Homo sapiens: one gene and its partners. The protein of the gene in region 3 interacts with the protein of the main gene of each other region in a biochemical or structural test. Each region holds a gene or a part of one and is shown on either strand. Other genes may lie near its edges.

Region 1 (3,256 bases), on a different chromosome or scaffold from region 3:
CAGAGCAGAGCCTATGGCCGTGGCTGCCAGGCCTTGCCCCGCCCCACTAGGGTGCAGCCTCCAGACGCAGCCCCCTCACTCCCACAGCTCAACTTCATCCTCTTCATCAATATCGTCCGGGTGCTCGCCACCAAGCTGCGGGAGACCAACGCCGGCCGGTGTGACACACGGCAGCAGTACCGGTGAGCCCACCATGCCTGCCATGCCCTGGCTCCTCAGGGGTCCCTGAGTCCTGGTACCATGTACCCCAGGAAAGACAGTGGCCCCATGAATGATCCTGGGGCAAGGGAAAGGACCCAGCGTCTGACTCCCTGGCTGTCCTCACCCACCTGGCCTGCCCAGCAGTGATGGGAGGCCCTAGGGCACCCCAAAGCCAGCCTGCCCACTTGTACCAGGCCCTGCACTAGAGCTGGAGTCTGTGAGTGTGCAACGAACTTGAACCTCTCCTCAAAGAGTTGGTTGCAGGGGGTCTGAGGAACAGGTAGGCGGTGAGTGGCCCCGGGAAGGCTGCAGCTCAGCTGAAACCTGAGGAGCGGACTGTGGGATAGTGAGGTTCGACCGTGGAGGGGAGTGCTTGCCAGCTGAGGGCTCCACAGGTGCGAAGGGCCCAGGGACAGGGGGACTGTCATTTGAAGTCCGCTCCGGGACACCGCTGAGAACCAACGGGCCCTATTAGCACTTAGCCAGGACAGCAGCCATGCAGGTGAACTGGGTTGTCCTCCCATGGTGACTGGAGCCCTGGGCCCCTTTGAGCTTCCGGAGCCTGGGGCTCGCAGGGTGGGGGGTGGCACAATGCTTGTTGAAGGGGAAGTGGCTTGGCCCTGACCTACCTGCCCCGCTGGCCCAGGAAGCTGCTCAAATCCACGCTGGTGCTCATGCCCCTCTTTGGCGTCCACTACATTGTCTTCATGGCCACACCATACACCGAGGTCTCAGGGACGCTCTGGCAAGTCCAGATGCACTATGAGATGCTCTTCAACTCCTTCCAGGTGCGCAGTGCTGGCCCGGGCCTGGCTGAGGGTGGGAGGGGTTCCGGGGGCAGGCCTGATTCGAGACACCCCTCTTCACAGGGATTTTTTGTCGCAATCATATACTGTTTCTGCAATGGCGAGGTAAGCAGGAGACAGTGTTGGCATAGGGCAGGGTGGGGCAGATACCCCAGAGGCTTCCTCAAGGCTCATTTCTCCATTCTTCCACCCTGTTATTTCTTTGTTCCTCCAAGAACACCCCTGAGGACATTCTGAAAGCAGAGAAGTCTTTCCAGATGATGCAGGTTCAGGATGTGCTAGGATGTGGGGACTCTTCAGTCACTGGCATAGCCAAGTGTCTTCCCAGCCCCATGGTTCAATTATCTGTGACCCAGATTGGAGGACTCAGCCACCTTTGGGGCAATTTGAGCCTTGTAGATTCTGGGTGTGTCGGCTGCCTGTAGCCAAACACCCTGTTGTGAGGATGGGATTTCACTTGGCCTTGGAGTTTCCCAGGAGTCCCCTATTCCCATTTTCATTCCGTGCTGGGTGTCCAGGGGCCGGGATGGGGCATCGCTGGGGTTGGGAGACACACCTGACTGCCGCACCCTTACTGCCCCAAGGTACAAGCTGAGATCAAGAAATCTTGGAGCCGCTGGACACTGGCACTGGACTTCAAGCGAAAGGCACGCAGCGGGAGCAGCAGCTATAGCTACGGCCCCATGGTGTCCCACACAAGTGTGACCAATGTCGGCCCCCGTGTGGGACTCGGCCTGCCCCTCAGCCCCCGCCTACTGCCCACTGCCACCACCAACGGCCACCCTCAGCTGCCTGGCCATGCCAAGCCAGGGACCCCAGCCCTGGAGACCCTCGAGACCACACCACCTGCCATGGCTGCTCCCAAGGACGATGGGTTCCTCAACGGCTCCTGCTCAGGCCTGGACGAGGAGGCCTCTGGGCCTGAGCGGCCACCTGCCCTGCTACAGGAAGAGTGGGAGACAGTCATGTGACCAGGCGCTGGGGGCTGGACCTGCTGACATAGTGGATGGACAGATGGACCAAAAGATGGGTGGTTGAATGATTTCCCACTCAGGGCTGGGGCCAAGAGGAAAAACAGGGAAAAAAAGAAAAAAAAAAGAAAAAGGAAAAGGAAGCGGTGTGTGGCTTCCTGTGGCCCAAACTGGGGACTCACTCCGAGAGGGTGGGGCTGGGAGCCAGGGAAAGCTGTGGCGGGAGGGCCATGAGTCATGGAGGAATCCTCAGGTCTCACTTCAGAATGGGGAGGGATCTGGGGCCTGTGGTATCCAGCAGAAAGGGCCCAGAGTGGCTCAAGTCTGCAGGGGTCACACAGCAGCCAAGTGGACCCATGTGGAAATCCAGCCTCAGCCTCCGTTGCTGCCAGCTGTGGAGCTGCTCTCCACACTTGTACCTAGACCCCATGGGGGACCCAGGCTCCTCTGGGCCAACTCTTCTGACTGCTGCCCCCATCACTGCCACCCAGGGCTGCTGGCAGATCCCTCGGGTCCCTGGCCACACCCCCAAGCCTACGGCCCTGCCACAGAATGGACCTTTCCTGGCTGTCCAGTGGCCACTCAGGGAGCCCTCCACGCAGGAGCCTTAGCATCCACCCGTGACCTGACATGCCTCTGTGACTGAGGTTGCAGTAGGAGCACCAGGCCAGCAGGTGAAGGGTGGGCTGGGTCCCTGCTCTGGCTCAGGACTTGTGGGGAGCCAGGAGTCTGAGCCCAGAGGGCTGGCTGGGCAGGGGCCTGCAAGGTGGGACACATCCATTCACTATGCATCTGGGACAGTCACTAAGTGTCCTCACCTGACACCCACCTACCACCTTACTCACCCCCCCGGACCGTGCCCTCTCCCACCTTGGGCCATTCGTGGGCCCCAGAGTGGCACAGAGCCCCTCAGCCCGACACCCTGAGGACTGACCCTACAGCATGCCCACCCCGGGCTCTGGCCTGAACGAGCTTCTTGCTCTTGCTCCAGCCTAAAGACAGCCCCGCACGAGCCCTGCCCTGCCTTCCCATCTCCCGCTCAGCCCGTCTTACTCTTCTCCACGGACTCGGCATCCAGGAGTGCACCTCATCTCCAGCAGCCCACACACACCCCATAGGGCATAGGGGAGGGGTCAGGAGGCCCAAGACAAAAAACTCAGGTGGGCGTTAGGAGGTGTGGGTGCCTGCTGAGCAGCCCCACACCCAGCCCTGCCTGCCCTTCCAGATGACGGACAGGACCAAAGGCTGTCCAAGGGCCTGGTGCACCCGTGGAGCTCC
Region 2 (4,177 bases), about 65 Mb from region 3:
GACCTTAGTTTCTGATTCAAAGGCTGGAATGAAAATTGATGTCTAGAAAAAGAATTGTCACATAAGTCTTTAAAATTATATTATATTAAGGGTATTCAATATCTTGAACATAATCTTCTTATAGGGCAAAAAAAATCCAAGGTCATTAATTTAAAAAATTTGTTTTGTTTTTGTTTGTTTTTCTTTGTTGTTTTTGAATATTATGTGTTCTTTTAAGCAGCTTTATATTGTTTCTAGAGTAAATTAGGTAAAACACCATTTGAGGATGCTTATAACATTTTCACTGGACAATTACACCCCTCTTTAGTGCAGTTTAAGATTTCAAAATAAGTAAGAAAGAATGTCACCAGATGCATATTTAAAAACGGATAGAGATATTAAGTAAGGATTTATTTCCACATATTTTATTTATATGCACAATCTCCAAGTATTCCAAGGCTCTGTAGAAATGGGGTGGGTTCAGCAGATGTAGAGATGGGTGGGTTTTGGGGTGGCTCATTGGACTGTTAAAAAGATAAGTCCTATATTGAGAGATCAGTAAATTAACATCAAAGTATACAGACACAAACATTTATAACACCCACACATGTAACACGCACACACACACACACGGCATTTGTGTGAGTAAAAATGTGGATATGTAAATAAGTTTTCTGAGAAGATGTGTGGAGAGTGTCTAGGATAAACTTTTATAAGTATGAGAAAATTCAATATTTGTAGACATTTTAGAGCATTGATAAGTTATTCTGTGACATTTACGATTTCTATGGAGCCCTGAAAAACCACATGTTCATCCTGCGCTAAGGTGAATATGATATGTTGTACACGTGGTTTGATGTTGTTTATGTGAAGAAGCTTCATGCACTATGACAATAACATGGATTACCATTCAGGAGACCTAGATTTTAGTGCCCACTAAATGCCCACGAACTCCAACTTTGTCAACTCATTTAACATCTTTATTGACTCACTTAACATATATTTGATAAATGACTTCATTTATAAAATAAGATAGTAAGACTAATCTCTAAGAGCTCTTCTAAAATGTCAACATATAGTGAATTTGTTTTTCAGAGCAGTATTTAAATCTATAGTCTTTATATCAGTTGTGTTGGCCAAAACATATAATGAAACCTGCTATCATTTACTATCACATTGATAGAAATATACTACTGGTCAAGTTATATTCACCATAACTAATCTCCAGATATGACAATCTAAGCCTTTAATATGTGTGTTATTCATAGCCTAACAATATTGGCATTAACAAGGGGCTTCATAGTATAAAAACATATCTTACGACACACAGCAACTTAAGAAACATATCCACTAAAATTCCTAGATGTCCGTCATTGTATAATTGTTGATAGAATGCTTTGTTTTTTCTTTTTTGTTTGTATTGTTTTCTGCTAGTTATTAAATTGCAGTGAATGACATTTGTGTAAAATATCTATAGTCCCAGCTTGAGCTCATTCAATCAACAGCAACAACATAAGCTAATGTAGACCGAGTTCTTTTGTGCCAGGTACTATTCTTATGCTGAACTTACCTCATTTCATTCCATCCCATCAACAGCCTTGTAAAGTAAGAAGAATGAAACTTGCTCAGCAAGAATGTAAAACCAGGCTGTCAAGCTCCAGGGCCCAAGCATTTAACCACCATTCCGTGCTGCCAACCTAGTGTCAATTTCATTTCCAGCACAAGTGATCCAATCTGAAAGCCACTTGCTTGGAGCAATGTGGCTTTCCTTCTTCAACACAAATTACCCCACAAGATAATGACATACAACACAATTTCTGTGAAGAGGGAAACAGGACAATTGGTAGGTACCTCTCTGTGGGGGACTATCAATGCTACTTTATAGCTATGAGAATGATTCTGGAACCCTAAAATTCTGATATGAATAAATAATTGAGAAGAGAGATTTCTCCCCACCAGGCTCCAAAGACACACTATCGTTACCCCCCAAGGGTAGAAGAAGAAGAAATAAAGTAGAAATCCTTACAGGAAAAAGCCTACAAAGCAATGAGTTCCTATTTCTTATTAAAGGCCTCAGAAGATACCTGGCACAGTGTAAGTGCTAAGTATTTATGAGATGGAGCGATGAATGATTGCTAAAGTACATCACATGAAAAATATTTGAGTTCTGGAAAAAAATGATGATATATTTCCTACCTTCAGCAAAATGTAATGTCTTACAAGCACTATGGAAAGGCACATATAAATTTAACACATATTCAGTGAAAAAGCAGAATGTGAATTGTATCTAAACTACAACTACACTTATATAAAAACGGTATGTGTATAGGTAAAAGACCTGGAACATGGCAACATGAGAAGTTTGATTTATTGGAATAAATTGGCCTGTGGCTTTTTCCTTTTATTTAAATGTTCACGTTCAAATGTCCTTTGATCCAACCACTTTGTAGCACTTACATTATTCCAGTATTATTGTTGGTATGTTGGTTTCCCTGCTCAATCCCTGAGCTCCGTGCTGGCTGAGACATCGGCTGCCTCATCTGCATGTTTTTAATACTTGGCACAGTGATAGAGTTCACCCATCATGGTGGTTAAAAACTTGTGTTCTGGAGTCAGACAAAGCTGGGTTCAGGTTGAGAGTTACTACTTAAGAGTAGCATAATCTAAGACAAATTGCTTAATCTCCATAAGCCTCAATTAGCTTATATGTCAAGTAAAGAAAATAATGGTACCTATTTCATAGGATTGTTTTAGTGATTAATAAGATAATTCAGTAAAAATCTATTTAAAACACATTTACTTTAATATCTAGCACATAGAGAGTGCCCCCAAGATGTTAGACATGCTACTGTTATTATTATGACTTTAAATTGTGAATTGAATTGGGTGGTATTGTTAGTGAAACAGGGAACCTTATTTTATATTACATTAATGGAATTGTAACTCACTTACTTCATGGTTATAGAAGTGTCCATTAATAGAGGCTCTATTTTTCTGTCTTTCTTTTCTGTCCATCATCAGAGGCTTCATCCTTTTTCTCACCAGAGCTGCTTCACTCATGGTTCTATAGAGCACTGGGGAGTCTGGTTCATCCTTTGCATGTGGCTTCAGGGTGTTGCTGTGATAAGATAAATAGTCTGGGAAGAATAGATTATAAGCTCATATCATTCAGCTGCCTGTGTCCTAGCATCCTGAGTGGATTTGTGTATGCTTTCATTAATTTTAGGAATATTGCTATTTTCTGGCTGTGTAAAAGCATTATAGTCCACTGCTTAGCTGCATATTTACTTATTAAATGTTGCCTGAGACTGACTCAGCAAATTCTGCCAGTATCTCATATAAAATTCTTATGTCTCATTCTTATGTTTCATAAGAAATGATCACAATGATCATGTTTGGGGTTTGGGCATTCCTTTAATCTTAATTTATTGGGGAGTGCATTTTGTGGCATTTCAGAGTGTTAGAGCTGGAATAAACCTGATACTTTATCAGGTTTGATCTCTTACAGGTAAGAAAAAGTACAGTGAGTTGAAGTGGCTTTCCTATGGACATAGTACTCATAAATGATAGAATCAGGTCTGGATCCTTATTTTTTTATTTTTATTTTTATTTTATTATTATTATACTTTAAGTTTTAGGGTAATGTGCACAATGTGCAGGTTAGTTACATATGTATACATGTGCCATGCTGGTGTGCTGCACCCATTAACTCGTCATTTAGCATTAGGTATATCTCCTAATGCTATCCCTCCCCCCTCCCCCCACCCCATTATATGTTGGCCCAAGTTCTTTGGAGCTTTTCCTAAAAAATAAACACTGGGCCTTAGTTTTCCTATAAAACTACAGAAAGCTCTTTGAGAAGCTATTTATATGGTATGTGGAGCATTGAAAGATTTTGTTCCCATCTTTTATAAAAGCAAAAGGAATAGTATGCTTTGGACTAGTCCTACTATTTGTAATATATCACATTATGTTCTTTTTAGAACATTCCAGATGTATGATATGAATGACTTTTTCACTTAGTTGTCCACTATCCTATTATTTCTTCTCATTGAGTCATGTATATTTAACAATGATTCATAATTGATTAGTCAAAATTTGGTTACTGAATTATTACAATTTCTATAGCAGATTTTAGAGTATAAAATTATAGTGTAGCGTTGAACAACTCTAGTATCTATTGAGTAGGCAGAAGGTG
Region 3 (4,177 bases):
CCGATCACGAATCGATGATAGGCAGGGGGAAGATCCTGAAAGAGGCTGAGGATAAGCTGTCCTGGGGGTCTCACAGCTTTGGGGTGGGCAGACAGGACCTGTCCAGTAGTGAGCAAAGTTCACCCAGCACCTCCGGTGGGCCTTGGTCCCAGGGCTGGGGTGTTAAGGGGCTGTAGCCCTGGGAGAGTGCCCCCTGCCTCTGGCCCCCTCCAGGTGAGCTCTTTACCTTTGATCTGCTTGTCTTGGAACTCTGTGAGGAACCGTGTGATGCGGTCTGAGGGGATGGCAAAGGAGATGCCAGCCGTGACCTTGAGCGTGTTGATGCCAATGACCTCGCCATCCTGGGCAGGGAGGTAAGAGCAGGCATCAGTTGGGGGAACCCAGGCAAACCCCTGCCCACAAAGCACTGTGTCCACAGCTCTGTTTCTAGAGGCTGACCCCAGCTGTCAATCCCCCTACAGCCCCCAACTCCCCTGAAAAGCTCACTCTCAGGATCACACCTGTGTCAGTGACCCTACCTCTCCAAATCCTGGAGATCCCCCTTCCCCATCCCTGGAGAGTATTTCCAGGGAAGCTTGCAGCTCGGGCCTGCCCCCAGGCTCTGGCCACTCTGCCTCTAAGAAGCACGGCCACTGGGCCAAGGACACCGCCAAGCCATGTTTGGAGGGACCGAGAGAGGGAGGAACATGGTAAGGCCTGTCGGGGACAGAGACCCTGTCTATCCCTACCTTCCAGAAGTGGGGGGCTGGCAGGTGGGACCAGGGGAGCTCCTTGACCCCCCCATCCCTCTCTTTGGAGACCCTCCAAACCTGCCCTGCCCCCCATGAGGCTGGTACCACTTGGGCAGGATCTGACCTGGCCCCTGGGGACCTCACACTCAGGCACACTCCTGGAAAGGAGCCCCACCCCACAGCCTGGCTTATACCCCTAGCCCTGCCCTCCCTGTCAGGGCCTGGCCAGCTCACCAGGGATCCCTCTGGGGCCTGGGGCAGAGCTTTGGGTCAAGGCACCCTTTGTCCTCCTGGTCCCTGGAAGCTCAGGAGGCAGGAAGAGCATCCGAGTGTGAGATCCAGTAGATTGAGTTCTGTGTCCACCCTCGGCCCTCTGTGCCCATCTCTACTGCCTGGACCATGCGGAGCAGCCTCCTGGGCCTGGCTTTCTGGCCTCCAGCCTAAACCACACACACGAGCTTCCTTGAAACCAGGGCACGGCCTCAGCCCTGCCAAAAGCCTGGGAGACATCTTGGGCACATAGGGTGAAGCCCCATCTGCACACGAGGCCTGAGGCAGCAGGACATGGGCCACCAGCCCCTTTCATTGTCCCCTTGTCTGACCTCCCCCTCCCTAAGCCTCTGAGAGCCTCCTGCAATGCTCATGTTGTGCCTTCTCCCTGGGATTTCTTCTTCCTGTACCCAGTCCTCCTCAATCTCGATGGCTGTTGTATAATGCTCTCACCTCCAGGAAGCCCTCCCTGATCTCACATCAGCTGCCAGGTCTTCCTGCCCAGCGTCCCTCCAGAGCTATCTCATGTGGCTCACATGGTGCTTGGGCTTGTTCACATCTGGACACCTCCCCAGCCATGGATAGGAGCTTCAGGGGTGGGACCGTCCGATCCTTCAGGGCCTAGGAGCTCTGAACTGAGCTTCCTGGTTTATTCTGGAAAAATCTCACCTGGGATGAGGCTGAGCTTGACTTTGAGGCTCAAGACACAACTGGGAAGGGGAGAATGAGGGTGCCCCTGTCATCCTGTGTGTACATCCAGGGCAGGGAGGGCTGAGGTGAGCAGCCCCACACCTGCGTCTCCCTTGCCCCAGCTCCCCTGACAGGCACATGGCCCTGGACTGAGCTGCTGCTCATGGGTGAGTCCTCATTCCTGGTGGCCACTAGCATCCCCGAGGCGCTTGGGGCAGCCTTGGTCTTTCCTCCTTCCAGGCCTCCGGCCCAGCTGCACTCCCGACTGTTGGTGTAAATGTTCTAGGACCATATTGTGGGCCCTGTCCCACCTCAAGGCTGAGCACCCCCATGTGAGAAGAACCCCAGAAACCTGAGAGATTTTGGCTCTAGGGGACACTTACCAGGTTCACCAGTGGTCCCCCGGAGTTCCCGTACTGCAAGGGGAGGAAACAGCATTAGCTGTGCCTGACCCCGCCTGAGGCTTCCTGGAGCCCCTTCTCCAGATCTGCCTCTAACCAGTGCAGAGACACATAAGCAGGTCTCATCCTCAGCAGCATCGAAAGGCCTCAGTGCTGCCCCCATTTCACAGATAAGAAGGCCATGTGGATGGCTGCCTGATGACCGAGGTCTGACTGTCACTGTTCTCTGCACAAACCATACGCTTCGGCATCTACACCCCGGAGGCCAGGCAGCACCGCCTGGTGCATGGAGAATGGGGGTATTACTTCCCATCCTGCTGGCCTGGGGGGGCCCTCTACAAAGACTCGGATTCCAGCCAAGTGCCTGAGCTGCGGCAAAGCTGGATGGACGTGATCTGGGGCATCTGGGTGAAGTGCTTTGTGAATGCTAAACGTGCCACCAACATAATCACAATAATAATGAAAAGCAATGTTGGCCAGGGTGTGTAAGCTGGGCAAAGGTGTTTGCGGGCTGTGGCCATGCCTCTGTTTCTCTGAAAGGCTGCCCGAGCGAGGACAGCAGCCTCTGACTCCCAGCGTGCCTGGCACCCTGGGGTGGAAGTCACAGGGTTAGAGCTCCACCGAATGTAAAGAGAGAACTTTCTAGCAAGTGGATGTGTCGAGTGCCAGAATGGCTCTGGGGAGGGGGGCAAGCCGAGTCAGAGACCACCTCGAGGTTGAGGTCTTGGGCACAGATGGCAGGTGCCCCGGCCTCCTGTCCCTGGGACTCACGTTGATGATGGCATCCGTCTGGATGTAGTCCATGTCGGAGTCCCGGAGGCCCAGCTCCCTGCCCTCCCGCTGGGCAGTGCTGACGATGCCCGTTGTCACTGTGTTCTGTAGGGCGAAGGGACTGCCGATGGCCACCACAAACTCCCCAGGCCGCAGGTCGGCCGAGTGACCCAGCAACAACACAGGGAGCTTTTTCTAGGAGAGAGAAGGAGAAGACACAGAGAGGGAGGCTTAGCCGTCTACCTTCAGCGGGGACCGGAGTCAGATCCTGGCAGGGGGGTCCCAGGGAAGGCATGCACATCTGTGCAAAGCCACCAGGACTGTGAAGGCTCAGGCAGGTCACCAGTGCAGACCAAGACCAGGGCAGTCCTGTGCTGAGACCCAGGGCTGGAGTACACGGAACAGAGGCTCAGCTGTGCCAGGGACCAGAGGTTCCCCCAGGGCAGGCATGGGTGCTCATCATGTGCAGCTGAGCACAGCCTCCAAGGTCGTTGAGCCCAATGATCTGATGGTCACATGGCCTCTAAAAATCTGGTAAAAGCTGCAGACACCTGGTAAAAACTACTACACCATATGCACCACACACAAACTGATGCATTTGATGGAGAGAGATCTGCAGACAACTGGAGCCCAGCTAAGGACTCTGACATCCTTGATCCAGTTCCATCTCATCTCCCAGTAGAGACACACGGGGGAACTCAGGCCTGGAGAAGTGAAGCCACTAGCCGAGCTCCACCCCACGCCGCGCACACTGAGACACCTGCACACCCCTCTTCTGCTTTTGCGCGGGCCCAGCGGAGCCTGTCTGTCTGATTATCTGACTCTGCAACTAGCCTGGCAGCAAGGAGAACAGCCAAGCTCTGTGTTCCAGAAGCTGCGTGGTGCACACTCTGAGAAGGTAATCCCGGGTGCTTGTTAGAAGGTGCCGAAGCGCACACACACACACGATAAATTGGGGAAGGCGGTTCTGTGCTCGTACCCACATCAACTTCCTGGTTCTGGTTTTGCACCCATTACCTAAGATGTCACCGTTGAGGGAAGCTGGCGGAAAGTCTCCTGGGACCTTGTGGCACTACCCTGTAGCTTCCCGTGGATCTGCGATCGGCCAGGTCTCAAGAGCATTGCCCCAACTTAGGAGATCAGTGGGGCAGGACCCCATGCCTCTGACCCTCTGGATGGCTCCCCTCCACCAGGCCACTGGTCCTTCTCATCGTTTCAGTCCTCTTCCCTTTTATTATACACCATCATGTCAAATAAGAAAGTTTCTCTTTGCAGCTTTCAATACGAGGAGAAAGCTGTCAATAATGGGGACGA
Region 4 (3,733 bases), on a different chromosome or scaffold from region 3:
TTAACCTCACCCTATACCTTGGGAGGTTCTGCTCATTTCAGGGGCAGGTGCTTGAAAAGGGACCCCAGGGACTAGAACAGATACAAATGCACCAATGTTTATTGCAACATTATTTACAGCAGCTAAAAGGTAAAAATAACCCAAGCGTCCATCAATGGATGAATGGATAAATAAAATGTGGTCTATGCATACCATGGACTATTTTATTCTTATATATATACAATCATGGGGGTGCAAGTGCAGTTTTGCTACATTGAGGTAAAGTCATGGCCTTCAGTGCATTCATCAGTGGAGCAATGCACATCATACAGTGGAATATTATTCAGCCACAAAAACGGATCAAGGTCTGCCATGTGCAACACCATGGATGGACCATGCAAACTTTATGCTAAGTGAAAGAAGCCAGTCACACAAGGACAAACACTCTCTGCAGTGCCTATATTAGGCAGATTTCTAGAGACAGAAAGTAGAATGGTGCTTGCCATGGGCTGAGAGAGAGGGGATGAGGAATTACATTTAATGGGCACAGAGTTTCTGTTTGGGATGATTTAAAAAGTGGTGGAAACGGATGGTGGTGATGGTTGCACAACACTGTGAATGTTCTTAATGCCACCTAATTAATCTTACACTTCAACATTTCTTAAAGCAAGCTGTTTTATGTTATGTATATTTTGCCATGATAAAGATTATGTAGAATGATAGCACGTGGACCTAGGATCCAATTTTCAAAAGGAAAGCCAATGACAGTTGGCAGTTTTGGAGAAGCAGGGCCACAGTGGTGAATGCCTGGATATACACAGCCTATTCTTTGAAGGAGAGTTGGGTGCCGGGGCAAGAGGCAGGCTGAGTCAAGGGAAACCAAGTAACCCAGTGTGGCTCTTCTTTCCCGTTTAGGTTTCAGCACAGCCAGTCCCACAGGAGCCCAGCAGAAAAGATTACGAGACCTACCAGCCATTTCAGAATTCCACAAGAAATTACGATGAGTCCTTCTTCGAGGACCAGGTCCACCATCGCCCTCCCGCCAGCGAGTACACCATGCACCTGGGTCTCAAGTCCACCGGCAACTACGTTGACTTCTACTCAGCTGCCCGTCCCTACAGTGAACTGAACTATGAAACGAGCCACTACCCGGCCTCCCCCGACTCCTGGGTGTGAGGAGCAGGGCACAGGCGCTCCGGGAACAGTGCATGTGCATGCATACCACAAGACATTTCTTTCTGTTTTGTTTTTTTCTCCTGCAAATTTAGTTTGTTAAAGCCTGTTCCATAGGAAGGCTGTGATAACCAGTAAGGAAATATTAAGAGCTATTTTAGAAAGCTAAATGAATCGCAAGTTAACTTGGAAATCAGTAGAAAGCTAAAGTGATCCTAAATATGACAGTGGGCAGCACCTTTCTAGCGTGAGCTGTAGAGTAACGAGAAGTGCTTTATACTGAACGTGGTTGATGGGAGGAGAGACGAGGCATTCGGGCCGGTGGGGCGTAAGGGTTATCGTTAAGCACAAGACACAGAATAGTTTACACACTGTGTGGGGGACGGCTTCTCACGCTTTGTTTACTCTCTTCATCCGTTGTGACTCTAGGCTTCAGGTTGCATTGGGGTTCCTCTGTACAGCAAGATGTTTCTTGCCTTTTGTTAATGCATTGTTGTAAAGTATTTGATGTACATTACAGATTAAAGAAGAAAAGCGCGTTGTGTATATTACACCAATGCCGCCGTGTTTCCTCATCTATGGTTCTAAATATTGCTTCAATTTCAAACTTTTGAAAGATGTATGGATTTCCAGTTTTTCTTTACTTTCTCCCAGTATGTTTTAACAAAAAAAAAAAAAAGCAGGAAAAAAGGAATATTTAGCAGTATTGTTCGTTCTGATATGTGAATTTGTTTGTGACAACTAAACAAGGCATTCAGCAGTTTCTGACAATTAACATACATCATTCCACACTCCTTGTCAACAAAGTGCTTTTTCACTGCCTAAAATTTTAGATGTAGATATTTGAAATAGATTTTTTCATTTATACCAGTTTTCTTTATGATGATACAGTGTTAAAAGAAAATAAATTACAATTGATCTGTCATCCATATTTGCTAAGAATGTCTATTTCCAAGAACCTATATCTTACAAAATACACATTCTTGCTTGTGTGTCTGTGTGTGTGGGTGTATGTATGTCCACGTACTAGAAAAATTACCTGTGTGAGATTTTATTTTGACAGAAGCTATTTCATTTGCTGTTCATCTTGTACAAACTTTGTTTTTGGTTTTTTAGTATAAATGTACATCAGTTTGTTCCTTTTGTACTGTATCTATTCTTCTGACCATCTAGTGACTCAGGATATTAGGCCAGTTGAAGTGGAGTTATAGGATTTTCACACATTCACGCATACTTGGATATCAACCCTCTCTACAGGTCCGTTTCCTTACACATTTTATCCCCTCAGAACACGATAAACCATGGCCAATTCAGTTTCACTTTGGGGCCAATTACTTGAAGTATCCACAGAAAATGTAAACTGCTCGCCTTATTCCCCCAAACTTTTTGTTCATGTGGCAGGGAGCAGTACACAACTATGGAATAGATTATTAAAACTGAACTTGAAGCTAACGTTAGAATAGTGGTTAACAGAGCTAAGAAATAAGGCTAACCATCGAAAAGAACATGGGCCGCGGGTAAACTAGCTTTGCTCTTTAGATGCAAGTGGCTGAGGCCAATAGGTGCCTAGTAAATGTTAACTGTTCTTGGAAAAAATAAAAACATCAGTAACAAAAGAAATTGGCTGCCATCGTCCTTTAAAACTGGCTTCCCTTCACGCTACATAGTTTAATTCAGCTCCAAGTCTCAAGTAAATGGTTCTTTCTCCAAATTTAACAACAATCAAATGATGATAGTCAATTCACGCATAGTTTTGGAAATGAAAAGTTAACTTTCAGAATAGAGCAGTAGACAGAAATGTATGTGTGAATTATGTACTAGTTGGACATACAGGACTCCACATTTCTGGATTCCCTCACAGGAATGCTTCAGACCCTCTAGAGAGAGAGAAACATGGCACATTGAAGACAGGGTTTCCACTTCATCTGTATCATACAATGCAACAGTAAAGAGAATGTGATATGGACATGACTTCCCTATAACATAAGGGCTGGCTTAACCTTTCCAGAAGAAAGCAATAGGACTCATTCTCTGGTTGGAGTTGTGCCACAGAATTAATGTGCTATGGAATTCCTCCTCCTAGTAGAAACCGTATATTTTCTTTATGATTTTTGAGTCTTAATGCATGCCCTACATTTGCGACTCATGAAGACCAAGGATGTCTTTGCATCCCATAATTCTTTGAGAGCACATTGTGCCAGGCTGTGATTAGCTGACTCAGCTAGGAGCCTCCAGCATCAGAAGGAGAGATAGTGGGAAAAATTTAAAAGTGTTTGTAATTATTCAAGCCAATCCATTTTTCCTTTTTAGGCACATATACAAATAGATTGAGGATAGATATAGACAGAGAGAGAGAGAGAGAGATGACAGATAATACATAGCTATAGATAGATGATAGATGGTGGATGGATAGGTAGATGGAGGTAGGTAAGTCAATAGATGGGGTCTTACTTGAACTATGAAATAGCCTAAAGCCCCCACAGGTTCCCTTGGCAAAGAAGGTTGGTCAGCCAGTGATTTATTGTTTGTAACATGGGATGTATTGGATAAAAGCCCCAAGTGACAAGAAACCTTTGTTTTG
Region 5 (4,177 bases), on a different chromosome or scaffold from region 3:
AGCCAGGATGATCTCAATCTCCTGACCTCGTGATCCACCCGCCTCGGCCCCCCAAAGTGCTGGGATTGCAGGCCTGAGCCACCACGCCTGGCCACAGAGCACCTATTAAATGCTACATCCAAAACCCTGTGATAGCCTTATTTTTATTTATTTGTTTATTTTTATTTTTTTGTGACAGAGTCTCACTCTGTTGCCCAGGCTGGAGTGCAACGGCACAGTCTCGGCTCACTGCAACCTCCGCCTCCAGGGTTCAAGCAGTTCTCCTGCCTCAGCCTCCTGAGTAGCTGGGATTACAGGTGCACGCCACCATCACACCCGGCTAATTTTTGTATTTTTAGTAGAGATGGTTTTGCCATATTGGCCAGGCTGTGTCTCAAACTCTGACCTCAGGCAATCCTCCCACCTCGGCTTGCCCAAGTGCTGGGATTACAGGCGTGAGCCACCACTCCCGCCCTATTTATTTTGAGACAGGGTCTTACTCCGTTGCCCAAGCTGGAGTGCAGTGGCGCCATTACTGCTCACAGGGAGGGACTGGTCGGGGGCCTCACAGGGAGCTCACAGGGAGGAAGTGGTGGGGGGCTCACAGGGAGGGAGTGGTTTGGGCGGCTCACAGGGAGGGAGTGGTGGGGGACTCACAGGGAGGGAGTGGTGGGGGAACTCACAGGGAGGGAGTGGTGGGGGGGCTCACAGGGAGGGAGTGGTGGGGGGGCTCACGGGGAGGGAGCGGTCGGGGGGCTCACAGGGAGGGAGTGGTGGGGGGGCTCACGGGGAGGGAGTGGTGGGGGGTTCACGGGGAGGGAGTGGTGGGGGGGCTCACGGGGAGGGAGTGGTGGGGGGTTCACGGGGAGGGAGTGGTGGGGGGCCTCACGGGGAGGGAGTGGTGGGGGGGCTCACGGGGAGGGAGTGGTGGGGGGTTCACGGGGAGGGAGTGGTGGGGGGGCTCACGGGGAGGGAGTGGTGGGGGGTTCACGGGGAGGGAGTGGTGGGGGGCTCACGGGGAGGGAGTGGTGGGGGGGCTCACGGGGAGGGAGTGGTGGGGGGTTCACGGGGAGGGAGTGGTGGGGGGCTCACGGGGAGGGAGTGGTGGGGGGGCTCACGGGGTGGGAGTGGGGGGGCTCACGGGGAGGGAGTGGTTGGGGGCTCACAGGGTGGTGGTCTTGCCGGCCCCGTTGTGGCCCAGGAAGGCGGTGATGTGGCCCTGGTAGAAGTCCAGGCTGAGCCCCCGCAGGGCTGGCTGCGGGCTTCCAGGAAAGCGCTTCTCCAGGCTGCGAACGGAGACGCCAGGACTCAGGCCGGGCGGTGCCTCTTCTACCAGCACTGCAGAGATGGGGTGGACTCAGCCATGGAGGTCATGGGGGTCCTGGGGCCTGCAAGTCCCTCAGAGCTGGGCTGTGGAATCCGGGACCTGCTGGGCCGGGGCCTATAAAAGCTGCGGGAGCTTGGGGACCGCAGTGTCTTCAGGGCAGGTGTGAGGGTTGGGGTGTCCAGGTCATTGTCATTGGCATCTGTGGAATCTCGTTTTGGGGGGGAACTGGGCATATGTGGACAACCAGCTATTAAGCCTCGTAGTGCCTCACCCTTTGGGTCCAGCGGGGTGGGGCAAGGGGCTGGACTCTTGGGGGGCCGAGGTCCGCACCAGTAGCTCCTCCGAAAAGGAAAATTCCATGGTTCAGGGATCCCGTACTGGCCTGCGGGGAGGGGCGCGGGTTATTGCTTAGCCCACCCCCCAGGAGTGTACCAGGCTTTTTTTGGGGTTTTGTTTTTTTTTTTTTTTGAGACGGAGTCTTGCTCTGTTGCCCAGGCTGGAGTGCAGTGGCACGATTTTGACTCGCTGCAAGCTCCGCCTCCCCAGTTCACGTCATTCTCCTGCCTCAGCCTCCTGAGTAGCTGGGACTACAGGCGCCCGCCACCATGCCTGGATAATTTTTTGTATTTTTGGGAGAGACGGGGTTTCACCGTGTTAGCCAGGATGGTCTCCATCTCCTGACCTCGTGATCTGCCCACCTCGGCCTCCCAAAGTGCTGGGAAAGCAGGCGTGAGCCACCGTGCCCGGCCTTGTTTTTTTTTTTTTTGTTTTTTTTTTTTTGAGACTGAGTTTCACTCTTGTTGCCCAGGCTGGAGTGCAGTGGCGCGATCTCGACTCACCGCAACCTCCGCCTCCGGGATTCAAGCATTTCTCCTGCCTCTGCCTTCCAAGTAGCTAGGAAACAGGCACCCGCCACCACACCCAGCTAATTTTGTATTTTTAGTAGAGACGGGGTTTCTCCATGTTGGTCAGGCTGGTCTCGAAATCCCGACCTCAGATGACCCGCCCGCCTCGGCCTCCCAAAGTGCTGGGATTACAGGCGTGAGCCACCGCACCCAGCCAGCTTTTTTTTTTTTTTTTTTTTTAAAGAGATGGAGGTCTCACTCTGTTGCCCAGGCTGGTGGGATCACGGCTCACAGCAGCCTCAACCTCCTGGGCTCGAGTGATCCTCCCACCCCATCCTCCCGAGTAGCTGGGACTACAGGAGCGTGCCACCACGCCCAGCGTGCCACCACGCCCAGCTAACTTTTTGTATTGATGAGGTCTCACTATATTGCCCAGCCTGGTCTCAAACTCCTGGGCTCAAGCGATTCTCCTGCCTTGGCCTCCCAAAGTGCTGGGATTACAAGCGTGAGCCACAGCGCCCGGCGACTGTGCCAGCTTCTGGCCATACACCTGGAATCAGGGCGTCCAGGTATGAGGCGGCCCAGAAACCCCGCCCACCTGCCTCAGGCCCCGCCCCTCCAATGCAGCCACCTGCATGCGTGTGCCAAGAAGCCCCGCCTTCTCTCCAAGGGAATAAGCCACCCCCCACCCCCAAACGGCCTGGAGGCCACACCCCTAGCTCAGCCTCCCGCAAAGCAGGTGCGACCCGGCCCGGAGCCCCGCCCCCTACGGCCCACCTGGGCACACAGCTTCCAGGTACCAGGTGGCGAGGCCGTAGAGCGCCGCGTCCAGCAGCAGAAGGCCAGAGACCTGGGCCAGGCTGAAGACGTCTGCCGTAGGCCGGGTGCCCACGTTGTGCCACTGCGCGCCCTCGCCCTGCTCCTCCAGCAGAGCCAGGCTCTCGCAGCCGAAGCCGAAGGCCACGGGCGACAGCAGGCTCTGCGGAAAAGCGGGCGGTCAGTGAGCGGCCGAAGCGGGGGGCGTCCCCCATCCACGCCCGACCCGGCTCTCACCGCGGCCACGCGGCCACCCGCGGGCAGCCGGTCCCGCCAAGCCACACACAGCACGTAGGGCAGGTAGAGGGAGAAGTAGGCCAGGCCGCCGCAGGCCGCAGCCAGGTTGGCGCGGGAGAAGAAGGCGCTGAGCAGGAAGCTCTGGGTCACCGTGGCCACCGCGAAGGCTGCCAAGAACAGGAAGACCACGCCCGGGTGGCTGTAGGGGAGGATGTCTCCCAGCTGTGAGAGGCAACGGGAGCTTAGGGTGCAGCTCCTGGATTGGCCTGGGGGCGCGCACCCACGTGGGGCCGCCCCTGTCTGTCACCCTCCAGCGCACCCATTCTGCAGCCGGGCAGGCCGAGGCGCGCCCACCTTGAGCACCAGAACCAGCAGTGCGGCGCTGAGCAGGAAGGGCCCGAGGCAGCTGAGGAACCAGCCTAGCCAGAGCACCGCGCGGCTGAGCCCCATGGCGCGCATGGTGTCCCGCAGCCGCGTCTCCTTCTCCCGCACCACGGCCTTCACTGTCAGTGTCACGGAGTAGATCCAGGCCAGCGTCAGGAAGAGCGGCAGCGACCGGCTCAGCACACGCAGGAACCTGGGGTGGGGACGGCTGGGGTGGAGGCTGGAGACCCTCCGCAGACCCCCCCTCCGCCCACCATCTGGCACGACTGGTTCGTGTCCCGGGATCTCAAGGCGGGAAGATTTGCCTCCCTGTTCCTTGGAACCTGATCCAGCCAGCCTTTGGCTCTCAGGCATCAGTGCAGCCCAGGCTGTCCCTGCGCCGGGGGCCCCCAGACCCTCAGAGTCCCCCCCCCCACCAGACCCTCAGAGTCCCCTGCTCCTCCCGCTGCAGCAGGTCACGTGGAGTGGTGTAAAGGTGCAAAGTTCGCAGCCTGGACCGCAGGAAGGTTCCCAACAGAGCCTGGGCCCACCCCCACACCCGGGACCTTCCCGCCGCGGGGAAGAGCGGGGAGGGGTGCCAGAGCTCACA
Region 6 (4,177 bases), on a different chromosome or scaffold from region 3:
GAGGTCTCTAGAGGAGAAGGCAGGGAGACACTCAAACGGCAACCTGGAGGGTAAGCAGGAGATGGGGGCCAGGTCCGGGGCCTCACACCTGTAACCCCAGCACTTTGGGAGGCCAAGGCAGGAGGGTCACTTGAGCCCAGGAGTTCAAGACCAGCCTGGGGAACATAGTGAGATCCCATCTCTACTAAAAATGAAAAAAAAAATTAGCCAGGTGTGGTAGCACACAGCTGCTCAACAGGCCAAGGTAGGAGAATCTCTTGAGCCCAGGAATTGGAGGCTGAAGTGAGCTATAATCACACCACTGTACTCCAGGCTAGGTGACAGAGACCCTGTCTCGAAAAAAATACAAAATAAAAAACTAAATAAAAGGAACCAGGAACATGAAGCTGGGAGAAGGCATTCTGGGCAGATTGAACAGGTAAAAATGCATGCATGCCTTTGTAGAGACAGAACAAGGGGTCCATGAAGTCTGGAGCCAGAAGATGTGTGGTATAACCCTTCACCTCTCACGAACCACCTGAGAGACCTTTGGCAACCATCAAACCTTTCTAGGCCTAAACCGTCTCATGCATAAAATGAAAAGTGGAATAATATTTATCATAACCATCGTTGTGGTTATCAAATGATAGAGTATATTAAATGCTTTAGAAACACAACTAAAAAGAAAAACATATTACAAAATATTATAATTAAGGCTTCCCACGTTGTTACTAATAATTATACACAGAGCCCTTTTGGAAGAATGAGCTATCTTTGCTCTTCCTTGACAGAGATATGGTACCACAGCTGATCAAATCATCATAAAATTTTTATTGTTAGTTGGAAATCACAGGCCAGAGGTTGCAAATTGGTGGCCCACCCACTGACTTTGCCCAAACAATGTTTTGTTAGTCACATGCAGTATTTTTTAAAATCTGCATCTAAGTTTTGGGATATTTCACAGAAAAATCCAGATTTTCAGCTATGCAGCAGTTCCCTTTTAGATAGAAAATACATTGTGTTTGCACAGTCCCTACCATTCTCCCCAGCAGAACGGGAGAGGCCAGGGGTCAAATGTCACTTATCCTCATTCCTGTTGCCCTGTTTCCTCCTCCTTGCCCACTTCACTCATTTATACTAGAGTCTGCAAATGCTGAGGAAATCTTTCATTTTGTTAGAAAGAAAAAAAAAAAAAGAGGTCCAGAACAGTTGAGTCATTTACCCAAAGCCAGGATTAACAGCTGAATGTCGGCCAGGCACAGTGGCTCATGCCTATAATCCCAGCACTTTGGGAGGCCGAGGCGGGCGGATCACCTGAGGTCGGGAGTTCGAGACTAGCCTGACCAATATAGTGAAATTCCGTCTCTACTAAAAATACAAAAATTAGCTGGGCGTAGTGGCGGGCACCTGTAACCCCAGCTACTCAGGAGGCTGAGGCAGGAGAATCGCTTGAACCCAGAAGGCAGAGGTTGCAGTGAGCCGAGATCACGCCATTGCACTCCAGCCTGGGCTATAGAGCGAGACTCCGTTTCAAAACAAAAACAAAACAAAAAAACAGCTGAATGTCTACTAAACTCTGACTTCCCACCAGTGCCCCAGCATCACAATGCCCCACCTTCAGGAGAACGCAACACCCTACATCTATCTGCCGGGACGTCACCGGGACTTCGAGAGAAAAGCTAAGGTCCTCTCCCACTTCTACAGCTTTCAGAGTAAGAAAGACCTAAGGATCCGAGCTCAGAGCTATATGACAGCCCTGTCATTTGGTGTCTGTTCAAAACAATAAGAGCACCCTGATTATGCTGGGCCCCCACAAAGACAACGAGACCTTCTCTTCCTGGACTGCACACTCAGTTTACATAGACAAGGACGTCCTCTGCCCCCTCCCTACCCCTCCAAATCAGGCCAGAAATTCCGCCTTCTATTTTCTTTCTGGCTGAGAGATACCAGCAGTTACAGTTTCTCTGGGCCACCATTCAGTGCCAGGCAATGCACTGATAAGCTCTTTGCTGCATTATCACTAATCTTATCAACCAGGCATGATTTTCTCCACTTTATAGATGAGGTCAACTCAAGCTCATTAAAATTAAGTGATTTGGCTCTAGGACTGCCTGACTCCTTGTTGCTGCATGTCACGACCTACCTAAGCTACTCTTTCTCACTTTCTGTGAGTTCTGTTATTATGTAACCACATTTTTAGGGATGTTGATTTTTAGTTGATATTTAGTGATTAAAATCACCATGGAACTGCAGAAATTTCCCCTAAATGACCCAGATGAATTCCTGAAACCCAGCAAAGAAGGAGGGAAATAACAATTTTTTTTTTTTTTTTTTTGAGATGGAGTCTTGCTCTGTCGCCCAGGCTGGAGTGCAGTGGCGCGATCTCGGCTCACTGCAATCTCCAGCTCCTGGGTTCAAGTGATTCTCCTGCCTCAGCCTCCCAAGTAGCTGGGATTACGGTGCATGCCAACATGCCCAGCTAGTTTTTATATTTTTAGTAGAGACGGGGTTTCACCATGTTAGCCAGGCTGGTCTCGAACTCCTGACCTTGTGATCCACCCGCCTCAGCCTCCCAAAGTGCTGGGATTACAGGCGTGAGCCACCGCGCCTGGCCAGAAAGTAACTTTTTAGAGTTCCCAGTGGCCAGAAAAGGAGGCACAGAAGCTTGGCTGCTGTGTTTCCTCTCAAAATCCCGAAGAACACTGTTTGTCAGTGCTTATGCTCCGGTGTCATGCAGTGCTTCAGATCAACATGCAGAGCCTTTCCAAAGCTGTTTACACTACCTGAGACTTCTTTAAGAGATGGGCTTTCACTCTGTTGCCTAGGCTGAAGTACAGTGGTGCGATCATAACTCCCTGCAGCCTCAAACTTCTGGGCTCAAGTGATCCTCCTGCCTCAGCCTCCTAAGTAGCTGGGAATACAGGTGTAAGCCACCAGGCCTGGCTAATTTTTTTATTTTTTATTTTTTTTGAGGTGGAGTTTCACTCTTGTCGCCCAGGCTGGAATGCAATGGCACGATCTCGGCTCACTGCAACCTCTGCCTCCCAGGTTCAAGTGATTCTCCTGCCTCAGCCTCCTGAGTAGCTGGGACTACAGGCGTGTGCCACCACGCCCAGCTAATTTTGTATTTTTAGTAGAGACGGGGTTTCACTATGTTGGCCACAGGTGATCCACCCACCTCGGCCTCCCAAAGTGCTGGAATTACAAGCGTGAGCCACTGCACCCAGCCATCCATCCTCTCTCTTTTCATCACTCTCTCTTTTCACGGGTTTACCAAGGTTTATCAGAATAAGAAGCTAATCAGCAAAAGTGCTTATAGGAGACTCAATTACACTCAGGTTGGGTCTAGCAATATGAATACTATATACGTGTACAAATTTCTTCTATACAGTTGTTCACAGGAACCCTGAGAAATCTGGGAGGATAATTTGCTGCAGCATGTAATAGTCACTACTGGAAGCCCCTCAAACATAAGCATTTCTGACTGTATGATACAGAAACAAACTTTTCAGCAAAGAAGCCATGATCTATATAAGCCAGGAGTCTGCCTGTCTTATTGATTAAAAGTCTAGTTTTTTCCAAAACATAGTTTCCCCTCTCCATCCTTCCTACCCTTCTTCCTTTCTTTTTCTATATCTCTAAGGAAAAAGAAAGGAATTCTTCATTAGCCAACTCAAGGAAAAAGAGCACACTCGTAGGACAGTCCATGAACGAGCTCTGTGATGCTTTTAAACAGAAGGCTTTTCTAGGACAGGGAGGCGGATGGCTTGGACTGACCCTGCAGGCAGCCTCTGAAAGTAAGAAGAGTATCCCCCAAGCTGGGAAAAAGTTCTGACTTCCCTCCCCATATGCTTTTCCCCTTACTTGACTTTTCACAGTCACCAATCCATTTTCCAATCCTACCACATTCTGAATCAGCATCCCAGAATCACCCGAAACATGACTGATCGGGAGCCCTCCCAGGAAGCACAAAGGGGACGCTCCATGAACTTCCCCTTGAACTTGATTCAAACTCAGACTCTCAGTTCAACTTGTGTTTGGTCAGCCAAGGAAAAAGACGAGGTGGGAGAGAACTGGGTACAGACCAGGCTCCTGGGAAAGTCCCCGCTGCCATCTCAGTTTTCCCCAACCCCAACAAGGCCATAGCCTGGGAAGAGGCACTTTTACTACCACCAGAAAACAGAAGAAACCAAACTTA
Region 7 (3,896 bases), on a different chromosome or scaffold from region 3:
CGCATGGACCAGTACCAGATGAAGATGAGGAAGCCTGCGGGCAGTGAGGGCACGGGGTCAGCAGGTGGGGGAGCCCCACCCCATCCCTCCTCCTCCCTCCCCAGCCATTGTGACTCGGGTCTGCCCCACCTCTCCATAGTGTTTGCCAAGCACGTGCTGTCGGGCACCCATGAGACCCAGCGAGCACCTCCTATGAGCCGGGCACTGTGCTGCGTCCCCGTGTGGCCTCTCACTGTCACAAACTTCCTAGGCCCATCCTATTCATTACTATTCTCTTTTGTAAACAAGGAAACTGAGGCCCAGGAGGCTCAGGTAAAGGGACGTGGCTGAGCCAGGGCTCAAACTGTGGTGAACAGGCTCTGAAGTCCACCCACTTAAGCACTGTGAGATTTTGCACCCCTCAAATTAATAGCACTATGATGTATCCACAGCTTAGTAAATGTCTGTGTGAATGTATGGGCCTCACTTACAATCCTGAGTCCCCTCATCTCACAGGCAGGAATGAAGGCTTGAATGTTAAATAACCGAAATGTGGTAACATCTCCCCACCACCAACTCCCAGCTCCCATTCTAGGGTGACCCTGTATGGGAGGCTGGCCTTGAACCCCATGAGAGCCCCTGGGCCTGGCCATACAACCCCCTTCCATTCTGCACGGCCAGGAACAGAGGGGTGTGCATGCCTGTGTGTGCACCTCAATGTACACACACAGGTACATGCACAGAAAGGGACCCTGTTGGCATCAAGCCAGAGCCATCATGACCCTGCCCTGGGATCCCACCTCTCCGCCCCGACCCGCCGCCATCTGGCCACGCTCTCCCTCACTGTCCTTCCTACACACAACCGGTTCCAACCTCAGGATCTTTGTTCTTGCCTCTCCCTCTGCCTGGAGCTTCCTTCCCCTAGACCAGGGCTCCTGATCCTATCATGTGCACGTGACCCCTTGGGCATTTGTGAAAATGCAGATTCTGATGTGGCAGGGCCCGGGTGGCCCAGAGGCTGCGTTTCCAAAAAGCTCCTAACAACGCTGCTGCTGCTGGTCTGTGGACCGCGCCTGGAGTAGGGAGGCCCCCCCATCTCTCCATGGGGGGATCCTTCTCTTGTCTTCACACGTCTCATATCCAGAGAGGCCTCCCTGGCCACCCTTCTTAGGGTGTCCCCCACCCCAGCCGAGGCCCTGTGCAGCACGTGCTCACGACGATGTCCCTACTATCTGGGACCACCTTTGATGGCTATATGCTTGCCTGCTCATGCGCAGTCTTCCCCAGTAGAGCTGAGTTCCAAAAGAACAAGGCCCACACCCAACCAGCTCAGCCATAAGCCCTGTGGCTTAACACAGGGCCTGCACATAGTAGGTGCTCAATCAAGACTTGTTGACTGTGGCCTGGATGTCCCCATTTTATGAATGGGATGACTGAGGCCCAGAGAAGGGAAGTCTTCAGGTTCCCTGGGTGATCTCTTCCCTGCCCTTGCTCCATGTGTAGACACCCTGCCTGGGCCAAGGGACGGGTCTTCTCCTTACCTTGGAAGGAGGTGATGATGCTGAAAAGGTAGAGGACGACAAGCTGGAAGGTGCCAGAAGCAAAGGAGAAGAAGATCAAGGCCCAGGGCAGGCCAAGGACCAGGCTGAGGCCCAGCAGTGTCAGCACATGTGACCACTTTTGGGTGTGGGGGCGCAGCCGCAGGATCTGCACCACCATGGTGGCTAGCATGGCCATGTTGAACAGAAACACCAGGCTGAAGAGGCCCAGGTTGGTGATGTAGCTGACCAGGGAGTCCCGGATCCAGCACCTGCGGGCAAAGGCAGGAGGGCTCAGCGTGTGGCCAGCACGGGCAGCATTTCCTGGGCTGTGGTTGTCATGTTTGTTTTCAGGATTATCCACTGTTTACAGCAAGTGCGCTTGTTTTCTATTTACAGTGTTGATGTAATTTTAAAAATACATTTGAGTTAACAAGTCAGATTGTTTAAAGGAAAATGTTAAGTAAGTAATAATATAGATAGTACAAAAGTGAGGCAGAAATCACTGGGTCACAACATAAAGAGCTGAAAATTTCAAAACCACTGAGCCAATGGGAAGGATTCCTTCCCAGGCTGGAGCTCAGGAACCCTGGCTTCCGGTTTGGGTTCAGGGGATCCACAGGCAGGGCCGCTGCCAGCCTGGGTGAATCAGGTGAGTGGAGAAGGACTGGACTTCAACCCCACTCATCCTCTGCCTCCGAACAGCACACCAGCCCTCAGTGTGGCCAAGAGCGGATCTCTTCCCTCCCTGAGCCTCTGTCTTCCCATCTGCATGGGGAGACAGAGAGGTGCTGCTGAGGAATGTGGTGAGGCTCATCTGCTCCAACCCATACCCCCATTCATGCATGAGGAAACCGAGGCTCAGAGAAGGGCCGGGGCCTGTGCAAGGTCACCTGGTGAGTGAGTGGTAGATCCAGGCCTTTTCTCACCCTCCATGACTCTTAGACCAGTGCTTCAGCCACTGCCAGGCCAATTCCTCGAGGAGACTGGAACCCAGGTGTCCCCTGGCCAGCATGACCTGGGCCCGGGCTGCACTCTGGCCTCTGTGCCCAGAGACCCACCTTCTTGCCCCCATTGCACACAGCCACTCACATGGAAGGGTAGATGACGCCCTCTGGAGTCCTATGCACAGCCAAGATGATGGGGCCATAGTTGTCCACATCCACCAGGGCCACCAGCGTCACCAGAAAGATGGGGAAGCCTGAGGGTGGCAATGCATGTTGCTCTACTTCCCGCTCTCTGAGGCCTGCCCATTCCCTGCTGGCCTCAGGGAGTCTGGAGGGCAAGGGCCCCTCTGAAGTTTGGGCTCCTGAAGCCCACCCAGCCCCATCTGGTGGGGAAGTTCCCCCAAGTTTGGACCCTCCCCCTCCCCATTCCAGTATGGGTTTCCTATAAGGGGATGCCATCTCCTCCAACCTTAGCCCTGCCCTTCGTCACCCTGGGGGCCCCTGGGAGAAAGGCCTGTGGGTCTCTGCTGCAGGGCTGGATGTCACAGGGGAGATGGGAGGGGCAGACAGTTTAGGAGGGACGGCAAGAGTTCTGCCATCAGGGGACGTCTGCACTGGGCCTTGACCTCGCCCGTTCGGTGGAGATTAGAAGCTCCCTAGAGGGGGCTGCCCACCTCCAAACACAAAGTCCTGACACAGAGACACCTCCAAAGGAATTTCATGCAAATGGGGGAATGGACAAAGAAGGGGCCCAATGACAAACCCGCGAAGAGCAGCAAGCTGGAGTCAGGGGCATGCGGAGGTTGAGGGGTCTGTGCAATGTCCAAACAGACTTGTGGCATCATGAGCCCCTGGGCTGTAGGTCTGACATAAGAGGGCTGGCCACAGGTGAATTGAACAGTCATTGGCCAAGAACAAAATGCCAAGCCACAGGGAATCTGTTACCCAAGGTCCAGGGGGATCCTGAGGCAGGGCCACTGCCAGCCCGAGTGAATTAAATGACTGGAGCGGGACTGGATTTCAGCCCCTCTGATCTCTGAACTGGGTGCCTTTGAGCAGTGCACAACCTGCACATTCACACACGGTGGCCCTGCTCGTAAATCCCCTTTGCAATGGAGTGAGTGATGTGGAGAATTTGGAAGTGTTTCTTGGGGACAGGGCTCACTGCTTCTTCCTAAAGGGGACCTTGATTCAGCCAAGGTGAAGGACACCTGAGGATGAGTGAAGGAGGCCAGGAGGGAAGTCAGAGAGATAGGTGGAGAGGCAGAACCAGGTGCCTGGGTTTTGCCAGAGCCAAGTGGGAGAGGCAGGTCTGAGGCACCCCCCGCCCAACCACTTACCCCAGCCCATGGCGCTCAGCTTGAGTAGGTAGCCAGGGACATAGGTGCCAAAGACCTCCACCACGAGTCGGTAGAGGTTGTACCCCTCGAGG

What was found.
Region 1: the proteins of HTRA3 (region 3) and PTH1R interact in a test that uses a peptide from one of them, tested with the Homo sapiens proteins (one large-scale study listed by IntAct).
Region 2: the proteins of HTRA3 (region 3) and RASSF6 interact in a test that uses a peptide from one of them, tested with the Homo sapiens proteins (one large-scale study listed by IntAct).
Region 4: the proteins of HTRA3 (region 3) and CTNND2 interact in a test that uses a peptide from one of them, tested with the Homo sapiens proteins (one large-scale study listed by IntAct).
Region 5: the proteins of HTRA3 (region 3) and ABCA7 interact in a test that uses a peptide from one of them, tested with the Homo sapiens proteins (one large-scale study listed by IntAct).
Region 6: the proteins of HTRA3 (region 3) and PLEKHA2 interact in a test that uses a peptide from one of them, tested with the Homo sapiens proteins (one large-scale study listed by IntAct).
Region 7: the proteins of HTRA3 (region 3) and ADGRG1 interact in a test that uses a peptide from one of them, tested with the Homo sapiens proteins (one large-scale study listed by IntAct).

The regions. Positions count from the first base shown.
Region 1 is NC_000003.12:46,901,679-46,904,934, forward strand, and holds the end of PTH1R (parathyroid hormone/parathyroid hormone-related peptide receptor precursor), read left to right. Parts: intron 1-87; coding exon 88-182; intron 183-847; coding exon 848-989; intron 990-1,070; coding exon 1,071-1,112; intron 1,113-1,591; coding exon 1,592-1,978; 3' UTR 1,979-2,121; downstream 2,122-3,256.
Region 2 is NC_000004.12:73,582,249-73,586,425, forward strand, and holds part of RASSF6 (ras association domain-containing protein 6), read right to left. Parts: intron 3,117-4,177; coding exon 2,932-3,116; intron 2,586-2,931; coding exon of another isoform or gene 2,571-2,585; exon of another isoform or gene 358-2,570; intron 43-357; coding exon 1-42.
Region 3 is NC_000004.12:8,290,251-8,294,427, reverse strand, and holds part of HTRA3 (serine protease HTRA3 isoform 1 precursor), read right to left. Parts: intron 3,059-4,177; coding exon 2,864-3,058; intron 2,108-2,863; coding exon 2,075-2,107; intron 342-2,074; coding exon 227-341; intron 1-226. UniProt on the Homo sapiens protein: Serine protease that cleaves beta-casein/CSN2 as well as several extracellular matrix (ECM) proteoglycans such as decorin/DCN, biglycan/BGN and fibronectin/FN1.
Region 4 is NC_000005.10:10,970,875-10,974,607, reverse strand, and holds the end of CTNND2 (catenin delta-2), read left to right. Parts: intron 1-894; coding exon 895-1,155; 3' UTR 1,156-2,772; downstream 2,773-3,733. UniProt on the Homo sapiens protein: Has a critical role in neuronal development, particularly in the formation and/or maintenance of dendritic spines and synapses. Involved in the regulation of Wnt signaling.
Region 5 is NC_000019.10:1,046,406-1,050,582, reverse strand, and holds part of ABCA7 (phospholipid-transporting ATPase ABCA7), read right to left. Parts: coding exon 4,177-4,177; intron 3,782-4,176; coding exon 3,559-3,781; intron 3,427-3,558; coding exon 3,205-3,426; intron 3,131-3,204; coding exon 2,929-3,130; intron 1,689-2,928; coding exon 1,578-1,688; intron 1,318-1,577; coding exon 1,146-1,317; coding exon of another isoform or gene 1,121-1,145; intron 1-1,120. UniProt on the Homo sapiens protein: Catalyzes the translocation of specific phospholipids from the cytoplasmic to the extracellular/lumenal leaflet of membrane coupled to the hydrolysis of ATP. Transports preferentially phosphatidylserine over phosphatidylcholine.
Region 6 is NC_000008.11:38,946,223-38,950,399, reverse strand, and holds part of PLEKHA2 (pleckstrin homology domain-containing family A member 2), read right to left. Parts: intron 1-4,177. UniProt on the Homo sapiens protein: Binds specifically to phosphatidylinositol 3,4-diphosphate (PtdIns3,4P2), but not to other phosphoinositides. May recruit other proteins to the plasma membrane.
Region 7 is NC_000016.10:57,659,590-57,663,485, reverse strand, and holds part of ADGRG1 (adhesion G-protein coupled receptor G1 isoform b precursor), read right to left. Parts: coding exon 3,805-3,896; intron 2,719-3,804; coding exon 2,610-2,718; intron 1,790-2,609; coding exon 1,521-1,789; intron 35-1,520; coding exon 1-34. UniProt on the Homo sapiens protein: Adhesion G-protein coupled receptor (aGPCR) for steroid hormone 17alpha-hydroxypregnenolone (17-OH), which is involved in cell adhesion and cell-cell interactions.